Homo sapiens: one gene and its partners. Changing the gene in region 3 together with the main gene of any one other region gives a genetic interaction. Each region holds a gene or a part of one and is shown on either strand. Other genes may lie near its edges.

Region 1 (3,519 bases), on a different chromosome or scaffold from region 3:
GGACTGCCTGTCTCTCTCCACTGCCAGTCTCTGAAGGCTTTTGGGGATCAAAACTCTTATTCTAGGCTGGGGGCAGCGGCTCACGCCTATAATCCCAGGCCTTTGGAGGCCAAGGCAAAAGGACTGCTTGAGATCAGGAGTTCAAGACCAACCTGGGCAACATAATATCTTGTCTCTATGGAAAATGTTTTTTAAAATTATCTAGATGTGGTGGCTCTTGCCTGTAGTCCCAGCTACTTGGGAGGCTAAGGTGGGAGGATCACTTGAGCCTGGAAGGTGGAGGCTGCAGTAGACCATGATCACATCACTGCACTGCAGTGTGGGCAATAGAGCAAGACCCTATCTCAAAACATAAATAAATAATTTTTTTTTTGAGACAGAGTCTTGCTCTGTTGTCCAGGCTGGAGTGCAGTGGTGCAATCTTGGCTCATTGCAACCTCTGCCTCCTGAGTTCAAGTGATACTCCTGCCTTAGCTGCCCGAGTAGCTGAGATTACAGGCACTCGCCACCATGCCTGGCTAATTTTTGCATTTTTAGCAGACACGAGGTTTCATCATGTTGGCCAGGCTGGTCTCGAACTCCTGACCTCAGGTGATCCACCCGCCTCAGCCTCCCAAAGTGCTGGGATTACAGGCGTGAGCCACCGCGCCTGGCCATAAATAAAAACTTTAAATTTCTATTTTTCATATCCTCCATGTCCAGGAAAGGCCTCATGAAGAGTGCCTGGAGGAATGAACGCATGAACACACAGCTATGCCCACAAACATGCAACTCAGCAAAGATCTGGATGTCTGTTGAGATATCAGCAGATTCCTGGTCAATCTAGGTAAACCCTAGCAATCTAGGAAGACCCGCCTGTCCCCTCCACAAACCCAGAGCTGAGATCCTGGTGCCCTTACCTCATCCTTCAGCTGAGCCAGGAAGAGGGGCAAGAGGTGCTCGATGGTGTTGTCTTTGCCCAAGATGGGAGAGAGACCCATGATGACTGAGGCCAGGGCAGACTTGACATGTTGGTTGGCATCGGACACCAGCTCCTGGGAGAGAGAAGAGGCAGGCACAGGGGTCAGTGCAACCCCTGCAGCAGCAAGTGGCTAAGCAGATGCCAACTCCTAAGAGACAATAACCTGCTTCTGCCCCTCTCATTCATAGAGCAGGGGATGGCTTAGGGTACAGGGGAAATCACTATTCCTTATGAGTACCACCTACTTAAGAGTTCAATGACCCCTGCTCTCAGCAGCCCCCACTCCAACCCCAAAACCCTGTGAATGACAGGACTCAGTGACATCTGAGGTTCTAGAAAGTACTTCCACCTTTAAGGTCAGCCTCAAGCTGCAGTCAGGACCCCTAACTGCTTGAAACCCAAGAGCTGCCTGGTCCCAGAGGGCTGGGAACCTAGTTTGCAGCTGACTATCCCCAAAGCCTTGTCTCCAGCCCCTCTTTTTGGCAGGCTCGGATCCACTTGGTTCCTCCCATCAAACTCTCTGTTACCTTGATGCAGGGCAAGATCTGGGACATGATCACATTCTCCCGACAGTCAGCTGAGAGGTTTTCACAGAACTCTGTGGGCAGGGAGAGGGAGGCAAAGGGAAGTGAGACCTGATGTGCTAGTTCCACCTCCAGCCCCTTGGATACCCACCCCACTTGCTGTGTTCCGGCTGCCAGCACCAACCTTTGACCTTGTGGGAGGCTGCGGCCCTCACCTCGGCCTCACAGTCTTTCATCAGGTTCTGGAAGGCAGGGACCAGGTCTGTCTTGGTGATCTCAGGCCCCACTGCTTTCTGGAGCTGCAGACAGGAAGGAGGAGGGGGAGAGTGAGAGGGGCTGGCAGTTTACTCTGGGCTAAGGAAGCCAAAATCAAAGTGAAGGCACCAGAATTAGGGGACAGAGCGTGGGCCTTGGAAGCAGTGCTAAAATCTAATTCGAGTGCCAAGACTGGCCCCGGGGCAAGGCTCTTCACCTCGCTGAGCCTCTTTTGCTTCCAAAGAAAAATGAGGACTGCGAGGGCACCTACCTCACGGTGTTGTCAGCATTAAAAATAACACATTTCCATATTATTCAGGCTACTGAGGTTAAGTTTTCTGTTACCTGATTCAAAAACATTCAAATGATATAGTGACTGCAACTTTTTGATTTATATATGGCTGTATTTCTTAAAGATCTGTTACCAGAAGCACGAATTACTTTTGTAATGAAAATAAAACAATAGGCCAAGTGCGATGGCTCATGCCTATAATCCCAGCACTTTGGGAAGCTGAGGTGGACAGATCGCTTGAGTCCCAGAGAACAAGACCAGCCCGGGCAACACAGTGAAACCCTGACTCTACAAAAAAAACAAAACAATTAGCCGGGTGTGGGGGCAGGCACCTATCGTCCTAGCTACTCAGAAGGCTGAAGTGGGAGGATCACCTGAGCCCAGGAGGTCAAGGCTGCAGTGAGCCGTGACTGTGCCACTGCACTCCAGCCTGGGTGATGGTGTGAGACCCTGTCTCAAAATAAAAATAAAACAATAAAGATTGACAGAAAGGAAGGCACTCTAGGGCTGGGCGTAGTGGCTTACACCTGTAATCCCAGCGCTTTGGGAGACAGAGGTGGGTGGATCACTTGAGGCCAGGAATTCGAGACCAGCCTGGCCAACATGGTGAAACCCCATCTCTACTAAAAATACAAAATTAGCTGGGTGTGGTGGTGCACACCTGTAATTCCAGCTACTCAGGAGGCTAAGGCACGAGAATCACTTGAGTCTGGGAGGTGGAGGTTGCAGTCAGCTGAGCTTGTGCCACCGTACTCCAGCCTGGGCAAAAGACTGAGACTCTGTCTTAAAAAAAAAAAAAAAGGGAGGCACGCTTGGCCCTGCCTGTTTCATGGCACCAGGCATGGAAAGACGCACGGCTCCTGCTGCAAAGCTGGTTCCTGAAGACCTGGTAGGAAGCAGGACAGTTCATTATGAAGACGGGAATGAACAAGTAAAAATCTTGAAGGACCTCATGATATCTTGGGAAAATACTGCCTTTTATTCATCTTGCAAATATTTACTGAATGTCTACTATGTGCCAAGAACTGGTTTAACAGCCTAAAATTCCTGCCCTCATGGAATTTTTATTCTAAGACCCAGTGTGACACAGTTTATGCAGCTCAGGAGACAAGGATGGGAAGAACCTTCCCTAACTGTGGTGATGGTACGCTATTCTGAAGCTCTGAGTCCTTCCCGCAAATGCCAGTGGGAACCAGCATAATTAAAGGCAAAGGGCGCCTCAGGGTGGAGTGGCACTCAAGGCCTCTCTGATCCCACCCTGCCCTCTCTCCGATCCCACCCTGCCCTCTCTCCTGCTTTCTCTCAGGCTGGGCCATCAAGATCAGGCCTGAATGTTCCTGCTTGCACTTGCTCTCACCTCCCAGGGTTCTTTGTCCTCTGGCTGGAACAAAGTTCCTATCTTAGCTCTTACCCACTCATCTTCTAGAACCAGCTGTAACACCACCTCCCCTCCTCAATGCTTCCAAGGCCCCACATCTGTCTGTCTG
Region 2 (3,519 bases), on a different chromosome or scaffold from region 3:
TAAAAGTACTAAAGCAAAGCTTTTAACAAAGGCTAAAACTTAAGCATAGTGCTGCTCTGTACACTGTACTGAGATTCAGACGTTGACCTTTCTACCTCATAACTTACCTGTATGATCTGCTATAGTAGTCCCGATCATCATAGCCCCGATCATATCCTCTGTCATAGTAATCCCGACGGCGAGAGCTGCCACTATGAAGAAAAAAATATTCAGGTGACCTCCCTTATCTTTCTGGACATGAGTTTTTATATCTACTAGTAGGCCTTTTCTGACACATTAACTGGAAAATGAAAATTATTCCTGTTAAAATTCTCACCTATATTGAGCAAACATTGCCCTTTCCCTTGTTTCAATATATATAAACCTATTTTTAAAAATCTTTGGTTAAGGAGGCACACAGATCCTGCCAGAGGTCAATCTGCATATCCCACATATTTCTAAGAGGAAACAAAAATAGTATCACTTTGCTCTATTTAAGAAAATTTAGGCCGGGTGCAGCAACTCACGCCTGTAATCCCAGCTCTTTGGGAGGCCGAGGCGGGCAGATCATGAGGTCAGGAGATCGAGAACATCCTGGCTAACATGGTGAAAACCTGCCTCTACTAAAAATGCAAAAAATTAGCCGGACGTTGCGACACGCGCCTGTAGTCCCAGCTACTCGGGAGGCTGAGGCAGGAGAACTGCTTGAACCCAGGAGGCGAAGGTTGCAGTGAACTGAGATTGCACCATCGCACTCCAGCCTGGGCGACAGAGCAAGACTCCGTCTCAAAACAAAACAAAAACAAAACCAAACAACAACAAACAAAAAATTTAAAAATGGACTTGACTAAGATTTAGTTTTACCTGTAATGGTTGAACTTCTACTATGAGAAAAATGCCCTAATGAGGAGCATTTAATCAATCAACAGTCAAGTTTATGGCACAAACCTAAGTGCTGAAGACTTTCCACTAATACAAGTGTTTCTTTGACAAGTGAAAAACTGCCAATTATATTTATTTTGAAAATAAACTTACTAGGTAGGTCTCCCCATGTAAATTCCTGGTGTTGGCGTATGTGGTCTTTTTGTTATAGAGAAATCAACTCTGATCCTACGCCCATCAAGCTCCATTCCATTGGCACGTTCTTTAGCCTTCAAAAGGTAAATAAATTGTTACATACATCCTGAACAAAGCCACTAATTATCCTGTGGCTATGAGTAAGATCCCACTGGACATTTCAGTTAGGTGCATTAAGTTATCTTAATGTTAGCCAGAACGTAAGGTCTACAACTTACAAATGTGTTGTTCCCTCTACTAAATGTTCATTTGTAAAAGCTACTCATAAAAACTTGAAACAATTATTTTACCTAACTATGATCCTGACAGTATTTCCAGCTCCAAAGCAGCACACAATTGGCAAACTATAGCCTGTAGGTCAAATCTGGCCAGCTGGCTGTTTCTGTATAACCCATAAGCTAAAAATTTAAATAACTAGGGGGAAAAACAGTATTTCATGACAAGTGAAGAAACACACAAAATCCAAATTCCAATGCCCCAAAATAATCTTTTATTGGAATAGGGCCCCAACTCATTCATCTGGCTGCTGTTGGGTTAAAACAACAGAGTTAAATAGTTGCGACTGAGATCCTATGACTGAAACCTGAACACATTATTTAACCCTTGGAAGTTTTCTTAGCCCTTCTCTGGAAGCCAAAAGCTAAGACTGAAGCACAGCCTTAAGTACATATAGTTCCTTTTCCCAAAGTATGTATTAACAGCATACATTTAAAAAATAAAAATACCCCGTTTCAAACACATTAAAGTTTGTTCATAATTTGAGGAAACATCCTTTCACCTAAATAGAATTTAAGTTTCTAATTCCAATACTATGCTATCTTCTAGTTCAGATGTTCAAGCTAGTGTTTACGCCCAGGCAGTTTCTGGCACTAGAGATTAAGATAAAATTTATGCTATTTTCCGAGAGCTATGATCCTACTGCAAAAATTTAATTAGGAAATGGGCGGCCGCGCATGGTGGCTCACACCTGTAATCCCCCAGCACTTTGGGAGGCCGAGGGGGGCAGATCACCTGAGGTTGGGAGTTCGAGACCACCCTGACCCAACATGGAGAAACCCCGTCTCTACTAAAAATACAAAATTAGCTGGGTGTGGTAGCCTGTAATCCCACCTGCTCAGGAGGCTGAGGCAGGAGAATTGCTTGAACCCAGGAGGCGGAGGTTGCGGTGAGCCGGAGATCGCGCCATTGCACTCCAGCCCAGGCAAGAAGAGTGAAACTCCGTTTGTCATTAAGTGTTTCTCAGTTCTTCCTCTTCTCTATACTTGGAGATGACTTTAGCTACCATCCTTAATGTACCTAAAATCTGAATTTCTTAAATGGGGTCTAGCCCCACATTTCAAATCTTGACTCTATATTCTGCCTCAAAACAAATCAAAATCCAAATATGACATCATTCACTAGCCAAAAAAGGAACAATGTTTTCCTTCTGCATCATAACTTTGCTTTTGGTTATTTTTGACTCTAGAATGTGAACCCAGTGTAAACACTGACTACATATCCTGGCGGAATTGGGGTATAGTTGACCCCAATAGGTGGCAACTAATAAAGCAGGTGGTAGGACCAACTTCCCCAAGTTATACAAAATTTTGTTATTCTGCATGTATCTTGAGTCTCCACAAGAGGTTGGAGAAAAAGTTCGAAGTATTACTGACTTGTCCTTGTCCTTATCCTAGCAATTGGTCACTGATAACTTGGCGTTAACAATAGAACTGATGGTTTACAAAGGAACGGGCTTTTACTTACTTCCTTGGCATCATCTACATTTTCAAAATATACAAAGGCAAATCCTCTTGAACGCCTAGACTGCTGGTCATATACAATAGACACATCGGCAATGGGACCATATTTAGAGAACACTTCTCTTAGATCTCTTTCTGTGGTGTACAAGCTCAGCCCAAATACTCCAAGACAACAGTTAGGATCAGGATTTGCCTAGGGAAAAAAAAAAGTTTTAAACTTTGGAAAAGTTGTCATAAAATCAAAGTTGTTTAAAAAGGGAGCTGTATACTAGCCAAAATGTCACTAACAAGAAAAGTACATAATGATTAGACCAAACACTGCTTAGAAATTACAAAATTACAGCAAGTACTACAAGTATTTTTGGGAATGGGTAGGAAAGAATGCAAAAGAAAAAATTTCAACCTTAGAATTAAGTAGGTAAACAAGCACTCGTGCTGGCGAAAAGCAACTTGGCATCTTTCCTTCTATGAATTTATTCTAAGAAAAATTCACATATTCATAACATGACATACAAGGATAACTGGAACCACACTGTGTCTATCAGCTAGAAAAAATTGTAATGTTGACACACCTTCCATTCAATAGAATGCTCTGAATTGCCAAAAAGATGAGCATGTATGGTTCGATTTTTTCAGAAACACAATACACAAGTAAGTACATAAACGAAGCCTGAGGGGATGCGTACCAAACCATTTTACAGGTCATAAACAGCTTGCAATCGTA
Region 3 (3,519 bases):
GTCACTATCTTAGTTTCCTGACCAGCTAATGCTTACTCTTCATAAAATCAAGTTTAAACTTCTTAACCTTCTGAAATAGGATCTTAATTTTTTTTTTTTTTTTGAGATGGAGACAAAATCTTGCTCTGTTGCCCAGGCTGGAGAGCAGTGGTACAATCTTGGCTCATGGCAACCTTGGCCTCCTGGGCTCAAGCGATTCTCCCGCCTCCACCTCCCAAGTAGCTGCCACTACAGGCACAGCCCACGTCTGGCTAATTTTTATATTATTTGTAGAGATAGGGTCTTGCCATGTTGCCCAGGCTGGTCTCAAACTCCTGAGCTCAAGCGATCCACCCACCGTGGCCTCCCAAAGTGCTGGGATTACAGGTGTGAGCTATCATGCCCAGTTTGATGTATCTTTTTAAGGGTCATCTCCTACAACTTTTCTACACAAACTCTAAACCAGTTAAATGACCTTGCTTATTTATTGTCTTTTCCTTCTAACTTATGCCTTCCCATCCTCTGTTCATCCCATTCTATACAGTTAAATGCTTTTAATTTCCTTCCTTCCCAAATTTAGCATTCTTCAGAAGTCTGGTCCAAAATCTTTTCTCCATAAAGTATTCCATGATCACTCTAGGGTGAAATTACCCCTTTCTATTCCTTAAACAGCTAACCCATTTCCTCTGTGACATTCATTTTATATATCAGGCATGTTTTTGGACATCTATTATCTCCACTCATTCAAGCATTTATTGTTTACTGAGAGCCAAACACTGCCTTAGGCACTAGCAATACAGCAGAAAACATGCAGTGGCACGATCCCAGTCACTGGAGCCTCGACCTCTTGGGCTCAAGAGATTCTACCACCTCAGCCTCCTGAGTAGCTAGGACCACAGGTACACATCATCATGCTGGGCTAATATTTTTAATTGTCTGTTTTTGTTTGTTTGTTTTTAGAAATGGCATCTCAGAAACAGGGTCTCACTATGTTGCCCAGGCTGGTCTCAAATTCCTGGTCTCAAGCAATCCTCCCACTTTGGCTTCCCAAAGTACTGGGATTACAGGCATGAAACACCATGCTGGCCTCTTATGAAGTTTTAAGAACATCATCTCTGAAGTCTGGTTTGAGTCCAGTATTTGCTACTTAAATACAATGTATTGGGCAATTATTTAACCTACTGTGTCTATTTCCAAATCTTCCCACCAATAGGAGCATAAGTAAAGGAAAAAGAAACTGAAGGGGTCCAGGGAAGGTTTTTTCCTAATGGAGGAGACACTAGACATATTTGTATACTGATGAGGATAATCTCATAGAGAGGTACAAGAGAAAATGGAAGGAGTAGAGTCCTTGAGAAGGTGGCAGGAGATGGTAACCAAATCATATTGATAGAATGGGCCTTTGAGAAGAAAAGGGACACTTTCTCAATTGTAACCTGAGATAAGAAAAGATGGGCACAAATGTAGATTTGATGCAAAGAGCAGGTTAGGTTTTTGGCTAAGAATGAGAGTTGAAGAGGAGCATAAAGTTCTGATAACAGAAGACGAAGTATGAGATATGAGATGCCTGTCTAACTCAGTGGGAAAGTACACCTAAATGGAGAAAGTAGACTGCCAAGAAGTTTTGAATGTTAATCTAAAGTTTTGTCATCTTGAATTTTTTTCCTTTTTTCATTCTTTTTTTTTTTTTTTTTTTTTTTGAGACAGAGTCTCGCTTCTTTGACCAGGCTGGAATGCAATGGTGCGATCTCAGCTCCCTGCAACCTCTGCCCCCCGGGTTCAAGCGATTCTCCTGCCTCAGTCTCCCAAGTAACTGGGATTACAGGCACGTGCCAACACGCCCAGCTAATTTTTGTATTTTTAGTAGAGACAGGGTTTCACCATGTTGGCCAGGCTGGTCTTGAACTCCTGATCTTTTTTTTTTCTTCTTCTTTTTTTTTTTTTTTTTTTTTTTTTTTTTGAGACAGAGTCTCGCTCTGTCGCCCAGGCTGGAGTGCAGTGGCGCAATCTCGGCTCACTGCAAGCTGTGCCTCCCGGGTTCACGCCATTCTCCTGCCTCAGCCTCCCAAGTAGCTGGGACTACAGGCACCCGCCACCACGCCCAACTAATTTTTTGTATTTTTAGTAGAGATGGGGTTTCACTGTGTTAGCCAGGATGGTCTCAATCTCCTGACCTTGTGATCCGCCCACCTCGGCCTCCCAAAGTGCTGGGATTACAGGCGTGAGTCACCGCGCCCAGCCAAACTCTTGATCTCAAGTGATCCACCCGCCTCGGCCTCCCAAAGTACTGGGATTACAGGCGTGAGCCACCGTGCCTGGCCTGTCATCTTGAATTTAAAGTGAAGTCAGTCAGCTGTATGATACGATTTTTCTCCAGTATAATCAGCTATTTGGGTACAGACACTGAGAAGATAGATGAGTTTCATCTAAGGTTGGCATCTCTTCAAGTGGGTATGTAAACTGAGGCTATCTGCAAGAGAATTACTTTAATGATGAATCATAAAATCTAGACTAATGAAGAAGATGGAGGGCTGGGCGCAGTGGCTTACGCCTATAATTCCAGCACTTGGGAGGCCAAGGTGGGTGGATCACTTGAGATCAGGAGTTCAAGAGGAGCCTGGCCAACATGGTGAAACCCCCTCTCTACTAAAAACACAAAAATTAGCCGGGCATGCTGGTGGGCGCCTGTAATCCCAGGTACTCGGGAGGTTGATGAAGGAGAATCACTTGAACCAGAGAGGAGGTTGCAGTGAGCTGAGATCACACCACTGTACTTCAGCCTGGGCGACACAGCGAGATTCTGCCTCAAAAAAAAAAAAAAAAAAAAAAAGTAGCAAGTAAAGCCAGGAAAAGGCCTGGTAGCAAAAGTATTTGAAATTAACGTATCTGATAGGAGATCAATGATTTGGAAGTTTCTATGACATGGAAGGATTTTGAAGTAGGAGTCTATCTTCTAACTATTAACAGCTATAAGATTCTTGAGGACAGAGAAAGTACCTTTTATGGCCATCCTAACAGATGCTTGCAAATAGCAGGAATGAAGTAATGCTTGCTTATTTGATTAGCTATAGCCCCAACAGCTCACCTGGCAGGTGACAGCTAGCGTATGACAGATCTGGGTCTTCCCAGTTCGGAATTCTCCAAACATTTCTGTGATAGATCCAGTCTCAATTCCACCTAAAAAAGCGATAAGAAATAACTCTTAGCATAATACAAACATGTAGAAACTGTAGTCATAGAAATGTTCTTGGAGCTCATCAGAAAGATGTTTATGTAAGTTAAAAATTCAATTTCCAACAAGCGATAATTTTTCACAAATGTATTTTGAGGCTAGCCGTGGTGGCTCATGCCTGTAATCCCAGCACTTTAGGAAGCTTAGGTGGGTGGATTGCTTGAGTTCAGGAGTTCGAGACCAGCCTGGGCAACATGGTGAAGCCCTGTCTCTACAAAAATTAGCCGGGCATGGTGGCGGATGCCTGTAGTACCAGCTACTCAGGAGCTAAGGTGAGAGGATCACTTGAGCCTGGGAGGCAGAAGTTG
Region 4 (3,519 bases), on a different chromosome or scaffold from region 3:
GCAAATACAGGAAAAGAAGAAATTAAACAAATACAGTTAGCTTGTGATACTGATTTGGAGGCTCGCAAGATTGATTCAACATCAACTGCTTGGACATGTTTCTGGACTACGTGAAATACCAGGGAATTATTTACACATTACAATTCTAGAAAAATAATTTTTTAAATCTGCTTTGGAAGTGTTTAGGACTTAAACATTTCAATGAATATTCAAATAACAATGCTGTACTGCCTAATATTTACATTATGTTAGTACATGCAAATGGGTGTTCTAAGTGAGCTACTTGGAACTGTACAATTTCTTAAGCATATCTGAATGCAAAAGGAAGAATAACGTTATTAGAAGAATAATTCTCAGAGGTGGTGCTGGGTGGGCTGGTGGGCTGCGCTGCAGCCCACGAGCACAAAGAGGAGGGCCACGGGGTGGAGACTGTTGCTGTGCCATCTGCCATCGACTTTTCCGCCAAGAGCCTGGACTCCAAATATGACTTATGTTCCAGCAGAACTCCAGGTATTAAAATAACCCCTACAACAGCCAACTTTCCCTTTTGCAGTTGCAAACCAGCTGCCGCTTATTTCTTTGGTGAAGCACTTGAGCCATGTGCGTGAACCAAACCCAGTTCATTCAAGACAGTGTTTAAGTTACTTTGCCAGACCTTTATCAAAATGGGGCTGCTGTCTTCTTTCACTTGTGACAAGTTTAGCTCATTGAGACTACATCACCACAGAGCTATTACTCACTTAATGAGGTCCACTAAAGAGAGAGTTCATCAGGATCCTTGTGAGGCTATTTCTCATATCCAGAAAATCAGATCAAGGGAAGTACCCTTTGAAGCACAAACTTCACGTTACTTAAATGAATTTGAAGAACTTGCCATCTTAGGAAAAGGTGGATATGGAAGAGTATACAAGGTCAGGAATAAATTAGATGGTCAGTATTATGCAATTTAAAAAATCCTGATTAAGGGTGCAACAAAAACACATTACATGAAAGAACTACGGGGAATGAAGGTGCTGGCAGGTCTTCAGCACCCTAATATCATTCGTTATCACACTGCGTGGACAGAACATGTTCAAGTGGTCCAACCACAAGCAGACAGAGCTTCCGTTCAGTTGCCATTTCTGGAAGTGTTCTCCGACCAAGCAGACAGATACCAATACGGTGTTAAAAATGGTGAAAATAGCAGCTCACCCATTATCTTCGCGGAGCTCACCTCAGAAAAGAAAAACCCTTTGCAGAATCTGACACTCAAAATCAGAACAACAAGCTGTGAACTACACCATCAATTCCGTCTTAAGAGACACCAGTGAATATGAATCATCCCTGGAGCTCCAGGAAAATGGCCTGGCTGGTTTGTCTACCTGGTCAATTGTGAAACAGCCCCTGCTGCTCAGGTGTAATTCCCTCCTAGAGGAGAATTTCACATCCACTGAGGAATCTTCCAAAGAAAACTTCAACTTGTTGGGGATCGAGGTGCAGTACCACCTGATGCTGCACATCCAGATGCAGGTGTGCAAGCTCCAGCTGTGGGACTGGCTAGCTGAGAGAAACAAACAGGGCCAAGAGTGTGTGGGCAAGTTTGCCTGTCCTTATGGCCAGTGTTGCAACAAAAAATTTTCAAGATTTAGTGGAAGGTGTGTTTTACATACATAACATGGGTATTGTAAACAGAGATCTGAAGCCTAGAAATATTTTTCTTCATGGCCCTGATCAGCAAGTAAAAATAGGAGACTTTGGTCTGGCTTGCCCAGACATCTTACAAAAGAACACAGACTGGACCCATAGAAACAGAAAGAGAACACCAACACCTATATCCAGAGTGGGCACTTGTCTGTATGCTTCATCCCAGCAGTTGGAAGGATCTGAGTATGATGCCAAGGGTCTCACTCTGTTGCCCAGGCTGGAGTGCAGTGGTGTCATCATAGCTCACAGCAGCCTCCAACTCCTGGGGTCAAGTGATCCTCCCACCTCAGCCTCCCAAGTAGCTGGGACTACAGGAGTGTGCCACTGAGCCCAGCTAATTAAAAAAAAACAAAAACTATTTGTAGAGACCAGGGCTGGCTTTGTCCAGTTAGATATGTATATAGCTTGAGTGTGATCCTGCTAGAGCTCTTTCAGCTGTTTAGAACAGAAATGGAGCGAGCAGAAGTTTTAACAGGTTCAAGAACTGGTCAGATATTGGAATCCCTCAGTAAAAGGTATCCAGTACAAGCCAAGTATATCTATCACTTAACGAAAAGGAACATGTCCCAGAGACCATCTGCTCTTCAACTGCTACAGAGTGAATTTTTCCACAATTCTGGAAATATTAATCTCACCCTACAGATGAAGATAATAGAGCAAGAAAAAGAAATTTTTCTTTTAGTTCTTTTAGAAGAACTAAAGAAGCAGCTAAACCTTCTTTCTCAAGACAAAGGGTTAAGGATGACATGAAGGATGGGGGCGTACAGGTCTAGCCTTCCTCGAGCTATATCAGTAGGATGAAAGTGGACTTAAACTCTTTAGGTAGTTAACTGGAATGTAAATTTTTAATCTTTATTAGCATATAGTTGGTATAATTCATTGTATTTAGTAAGCCTGTACAAGACTTATTAAAGATGTAAGAGTGCCCCCCACCAAAAAAAACGAATCCTCAATCTATTCTAACTTATTAAAAACAACTATCTGAGCTAGGCACAGTGGCTTATGCCTATAATCCCTGCATTTTGGGATGCTGAGGTGGGTGGATCACTTGAAGCCAGGGGTTCAAGACCAGCCTGGCCAACATGGTGAAACCCATCTCTACTAAAAATATAATAATTAGCCAGCTGTGGTGGTGCACGCTTATAATCCCAGCTACTTGGGAGGCTAAGGCAGGAGAACTGCTTGAACCCAGGAGGCAGAGGTTGCCGTGAGCCAAGATCGTGCCACTGTACTCCAGCCTGGATGACAGAGCGAGACTCTGTCTCAAAAACAACAACCACCACCACCACCACAACAACAACAACAAAACTATCTGCAAACTTTGCAGCTTCAACTAAGTAAGAAGTGAATTGCTGCATTTGTTAACATAGCTTGTGACATACTGGTATCATGATATTAAAGCTCAGACCTGTTGTTCTGTAAGTTCAGGCAATTTGTACTATAGTTTTTCCTACTGTATCTCATAACTGTGAATTGTCTATGGTTAAACAAGTGTGCCATGAACTTTTATTATACAAATGCGAATACTGTTAACATTACTGACAATAAAGAAAACTTATGGCATTGTGATACTAGAGAACTAGATTTCAGAGTAATCAATAGTCACTAACAGTATTTCCAAGCAGTTCTCATGCATAGAGATGAGAACTATAGCTGCATATCAAGTTCATTTGTAGAGATGAGGACTACAGCCCATATCAAGCTATACCTTCTACTAACCTTTTCATTGACAACTTCTCCAGTTTCATTCAGTGGCGCTTTGGAATGCCCTTTCACTGGTTTACTCCATTCCACAAGAGGATCATGTAGAAAAGTCTTTAAGACACTAAAATTGAA
Region 5 (3,519 bases), on a different chromosome or scaffold from region 3:
TATGGGAGCTACAGTTCAAGATGAGATTTGAGTGGGAACACAGCCGAACCATATCAACATGCAATATTTGTTTCTTCCCACCTCCTGGTTTTTTAAAACTCAAATGGTAGCATGCTGTGAAGCTGTTATTTACCTTGCTTTTTTAACTCAACAGTATATTTTTTAAAGTGTTTTTTAGTTCACATCTTTTTAATGTCTGTATGTTTTGTTCCACATGTGAAAACATGCGCAACATCACTAATCATTAAGTAAATAAAATCAAAACCATGATGAGATACCACCTCACACCCATTAGGATGCCCACTGTCAAAAAACAGAAAATAGCAAGTATTGGCAAGTACGTAGAGAAATTGGGACACTTGTGCACTCTTGATGGGAATGTAAAATGATGCAGCCACTATTGAAAAATGGTATTGCAATTACTGAAAAAATTAAAAATAGAATTACCCTATGATCTGGTAATACCACTTCTGGGTATTCTGAAAGAATTGAAAGCAGGGTCTGAAAGATACTTGCACAGCCACATTCATAGGAGGATTATTCACAGTAGCTAAAAGATGGGAGCAACTCAGATGTTGGTTGATGGATGACTGGATAAACAAAATGTGGCATATACATACAATACAGTATTATTCAGCCTTAAAGAAGAAGGAAATTCTGACACATGCTAAAACATAGGTGGATCTTAAGGACATTAGGGCAAGTGAATTAAGCCTGTCACAAAAAGACAAATACTATATGGTTTTACTTATATGAAGTATGAAGAGTAGTCAGACTCATAGAACTAGAAAGTAGAATGACGGTTACCAGGAACTGGGGGGAGGGCGAAATTGGGAGTTGTTAATGGGTGTAGAGTTTCACTTTTGCCAGTTGAAAAAGTCCTGCAGATTGGTTGCAGAATAGTGTTAATATCCCCAACACTATAGAACTGTGCATTTTGTAATGGTTAAGATGGCAAATTTAATGTAATGTGTATTTTACCCTAATTTAAAAAAATCCATTGTAAGATTCATAATTGATGTGATCAATTCCTTACAAACGATCATTTAGGTATTTAGGTTGTTTCTAGTCTTTTGTTATTCTAGGAAATGCTACAATCAATAATGTTTTAGATTCTCTTATAACTGTTAGAACTTTGTAGTAAGTTCCTCTCTCATCGTTCTTTCAGGGGTCAAGTCCTTCCTGCTCATACACTTCTGAATACAGTAGATGTTGAACTTATCTATGAGGGAGTCAAGTATGTACTTAAGGTATGCAGAACCCCATTGGAGCTTGCACCTTACTTTTTTAGCTATCTTTCTTTAGGTTGAGAGGCAGGAGAAAAAGTTTGATTTAATGCAGGGATGGGGGTATTAGTGAAATTACCGTCATTATTTTTGTCAGTGTCCTGAAGCAGCGTTTGTTGTTCTATGAAAATCTTTTTTGTTGTTCTTCAACTTCACATACACTGCCAAGAGATAAAGGAGAGACAGAGAACAACCACAGTTGGGGAAAATCAACTAAGGTTGCCCTCTTTGCTTACAGCAGGACTGAGCCATGTCCACAGACACTGATGCAAATAGCATCAGTGCCATGAATTTTCTTCCTCCTGACAGATCTTTCTTATCTGTATTTTTGAAGCATTCAAATTTCATTTGGAGCTGTACCTGGAAGGGACACACTGATCCTCATTCTCATTCCCTACAGGTGACTCGACAGTCCCCCAACTCCTATGTGGTGATCATGAATGGCTCATGTGTAGAAGTAGATGTACATCGGCTGAGTGACGGTGGACTGCTCTTGTCCTATGATGGCAGCAGTTATACTACGTATATGAAAGAGGAAGTGGATAGGTAAGTGGCTGTTTGAGGTCCATTTGCTGGTCATCCTGTTAGCCTTTTCTCTTATTAGCTACTAGCTCTTGGGATTTTCCCAGGCTTTTCTTGGTACTCATTTGTAGTTAAAAAAAAAAAAAATAGTACATGCACTTAACAAAAATATCAAGAGTATTAAAGTGTTTATAATTAAAAACATGTCTCCCTACCACTCCAGTGTATGTGGACAATGAAAAATAAGTTCCCCTTTTTATAAGTAACCATTGTTAAAAGTTTCTTACATATTTGAGTAGAAATTTTATATGCATATACAAGTTACACTCATGTACATACTGTTTTTCTTTAAATACATTCACAAATGTGGCTGGGCGCGGTGGCTCACGCCTGTAATCCCAGCACTTTGGGAGGCCGAGGCAGGTGGATCACCTGAGGCTGGGAGTTCAAGACCGGTGTGGCCAATGTGGTGAAACCCTGTCTCTACTAAAAATACAAAATTAACCAGATGTGGTGGCTTATGCCTGTAGTCCCAGCTACTTGGGAGGCAGAGGCAGGAGAATCACGTGAACCTGGGAGGTGGAGGTTGCGGTGAGCCGAGATCACGCCATTGCACTCCAGTCTGGGCAACAAGAGCAAAACTCCGTATCAAAAAAAAAAGAAATTCACAAATGTTCAACACCAGTTATGGTGTTATGAGAATGAAATAAATTAACATGTTGAAAATGTGTAGAACATTGCCACAACATAGCTAGGCTTCAAGAAATGTTAGCTATTACGTCATCAATATCTTTGTGTGTGTTTTTTTAAATGGTGGTACCTGTTATTTTTAATAGTCATGTGGTATTCCATTATATGATTATACTATATTTAATCTGATCCTTATTGAAGGAAATTTATGTTAATTGACATTGTAAACAAATATGCAGTGAATATGTCTGTGTGTGTGTATAATAAAGTTTTCAGGATTTTTTTTCTTTGAAGGTTGACATTCTCTACCATTCTCCTTTACATCCTGAGGTGCTTTCTTAGCTTACATACTTCCACTTGTCTCCTAGATATCGCATCACAATTGGCAATAAAACCTGTGTGTTTGAGAAGGAAAATGACCCATCGGTGATGCGCTCACCTTCTGCTGGGAAGTTAATCCAGTACATTGTAGAAGATGGAGGTCATGTGTTTGCCGGCCAGTGCTATGCTGAGATTGAGGTCAGGGTGGTGAAAGGACTGTGGGATCATGGGAGGGGAAGGTAGGAAAAGGGTCGGCTGGGATGGACTAGGACTGAAAAGTTACAGAAAGGAGGCTGGGCACAGTGGCTTGTGCCTGTAATCCTACCACTTTGGGAGGCTGAGGCAGGAAGATCGCTTGAGCCCAGGAGTTCGAGACTAGCCTGGGCAAGATGGTGAGACCCCATCTCTATGAAAAATTAAAAAATTAGCGGCGTACAGTGGCACATGCCTGTAGACCCAGCCACTCTGGTGTCTAAGGCGGGAGGATCCCTTGAGCCCAGGAATTCAAGGCAGCAGTGAATGGAGATTGTACCACTGTACTGGAGTGGTACAATTTGTGGCCTGCGTCACAAATCAAGACCCTATTTCTAAAAAATTAAAAAAAAAGGTAACAGATTGGAAATAAGAATGAAAAAGAAACATCAGTTGGCTTAATTAGAAGTGCGAACCTTAAGATTTTTAAAACACATAGGCAAATGAG

What was found.
Region 1: changes in RAD51 (region 3) and PPP2R1A together harm fitness less than expected from each alone (positive genetic interaction), as found in Homo sapiens cells (one large-scale study listed by BioGRID).
Region 2: changes in RAD51 (region 3) and TRA2B together harm fitness less than expected from each alone (positive genetic interaction), as found in Homo sapiens cells (one large-scale study listed by BioGRID).
Region 4: changes in RAD51 (region 3) and ATR are lethal when combined (synthetic lethality), as found in Homo sapiens cells (one large-scale study listed by BioGRID).
Region 5: changes in RAD51 (region 3) and ACACA together harm fitness less than expected from each alone (positive genetic interaction), as found in Homo sapiens cells (one large-scale study listed by BioGRID).

What each region holds. Positions count from the first base shown.
Region 1 is NC_000019.10:52,214,044-52,217,562, reverse strand, and holds part of PPP2R1A (serine/threonine-protein phosphatase 2A 65 kDa regulatory subunit A alpha isoform), read right to left. Parts: intron 1,785-3,519; coding exon 1,670-1,784; intron 1,560-1,669; coding exon 1,489-1,559; intron 1,035-1,488; coding exon 900-1,034; intron 1-899. UniProt on the Homo sapiens protein: The PR65 subunit of protein phosphatase 2A serves as a scaffolding molecule to coordinate the assembly of the catalytic subunit and a variable regulatory B subunit.
Region 2 is NC_000003.12:185,920,997-185,924,515, forward strand, and holds part of TRA2B (transformer-2 protein homolog beta), read right to left. Parts: intron 2,989-3,519; coding exon 2,800-2,988; intron 1,131-2,799; coding exon 1,015-1,130; intron 192-1,014; coding exon 108-191; intron 1-107. UniProt on the Homo sapiens protein: Sequence-specific RNA-binding protein which participates in the control of pre-mRNA splicing. Can either activate or suppress exon inclusion. Acts additively with RBMX to promote exon 7 inclusion of the survival motor neuron SMN2.
Region 3 is NC_000015.10:40,708,662-40,712,180, reverse strand, and holds part of RAD51 (DNA repair protein RAD51 homolog 1), read right to left. Parts: intron 3,157-3,519; coding exon 3,065-3,156; intron 1-3,064.
Region 4 is NC_000003.12:142,449,726-142,453,244, forward strand, and holds part of ATR (serine/threonine-protein kinase ATR), read right to left. Parts: intron 3,509-3,519; coding exon 3,403-3,508; coding exon of another isoform or gene 3,331-3,402; exon of another isoform or gene 878-3,330; coding exon of another isoform or gene 848-877; exon of another isoform or gene 834-847; intron 1-833. UniProt on the Homo sapiens protein: Serine/threonine protein kinase which activates checkpoint signaling upon genotoxic stresses such as ionizing radiation (IR), ultraviolet light (UV), or DNA replication stalling, thereby acting as a DNA damage sensor.
Region 5 is NC_000017.11:37,246,324-37,249,842, reverse strand, and holds part of ACACA (acetyl-CoA carboxylase 1), read left to right. Parts: intron 1-1,168; coding exon 1,169-1,250; intron 1,251-1,686; coding exon 1,687-1,832; intron 1,833-2,866; coding exon 2,867-3,017; intron 3,018-3,519. UniProt on the Homo sapiens protein: Cytosolic enzyme that catalyzes the carboxylation of acetyl-CoA to malonyl-CoA, the first and rate-limiting step of de novo fatty acid biosynthesis.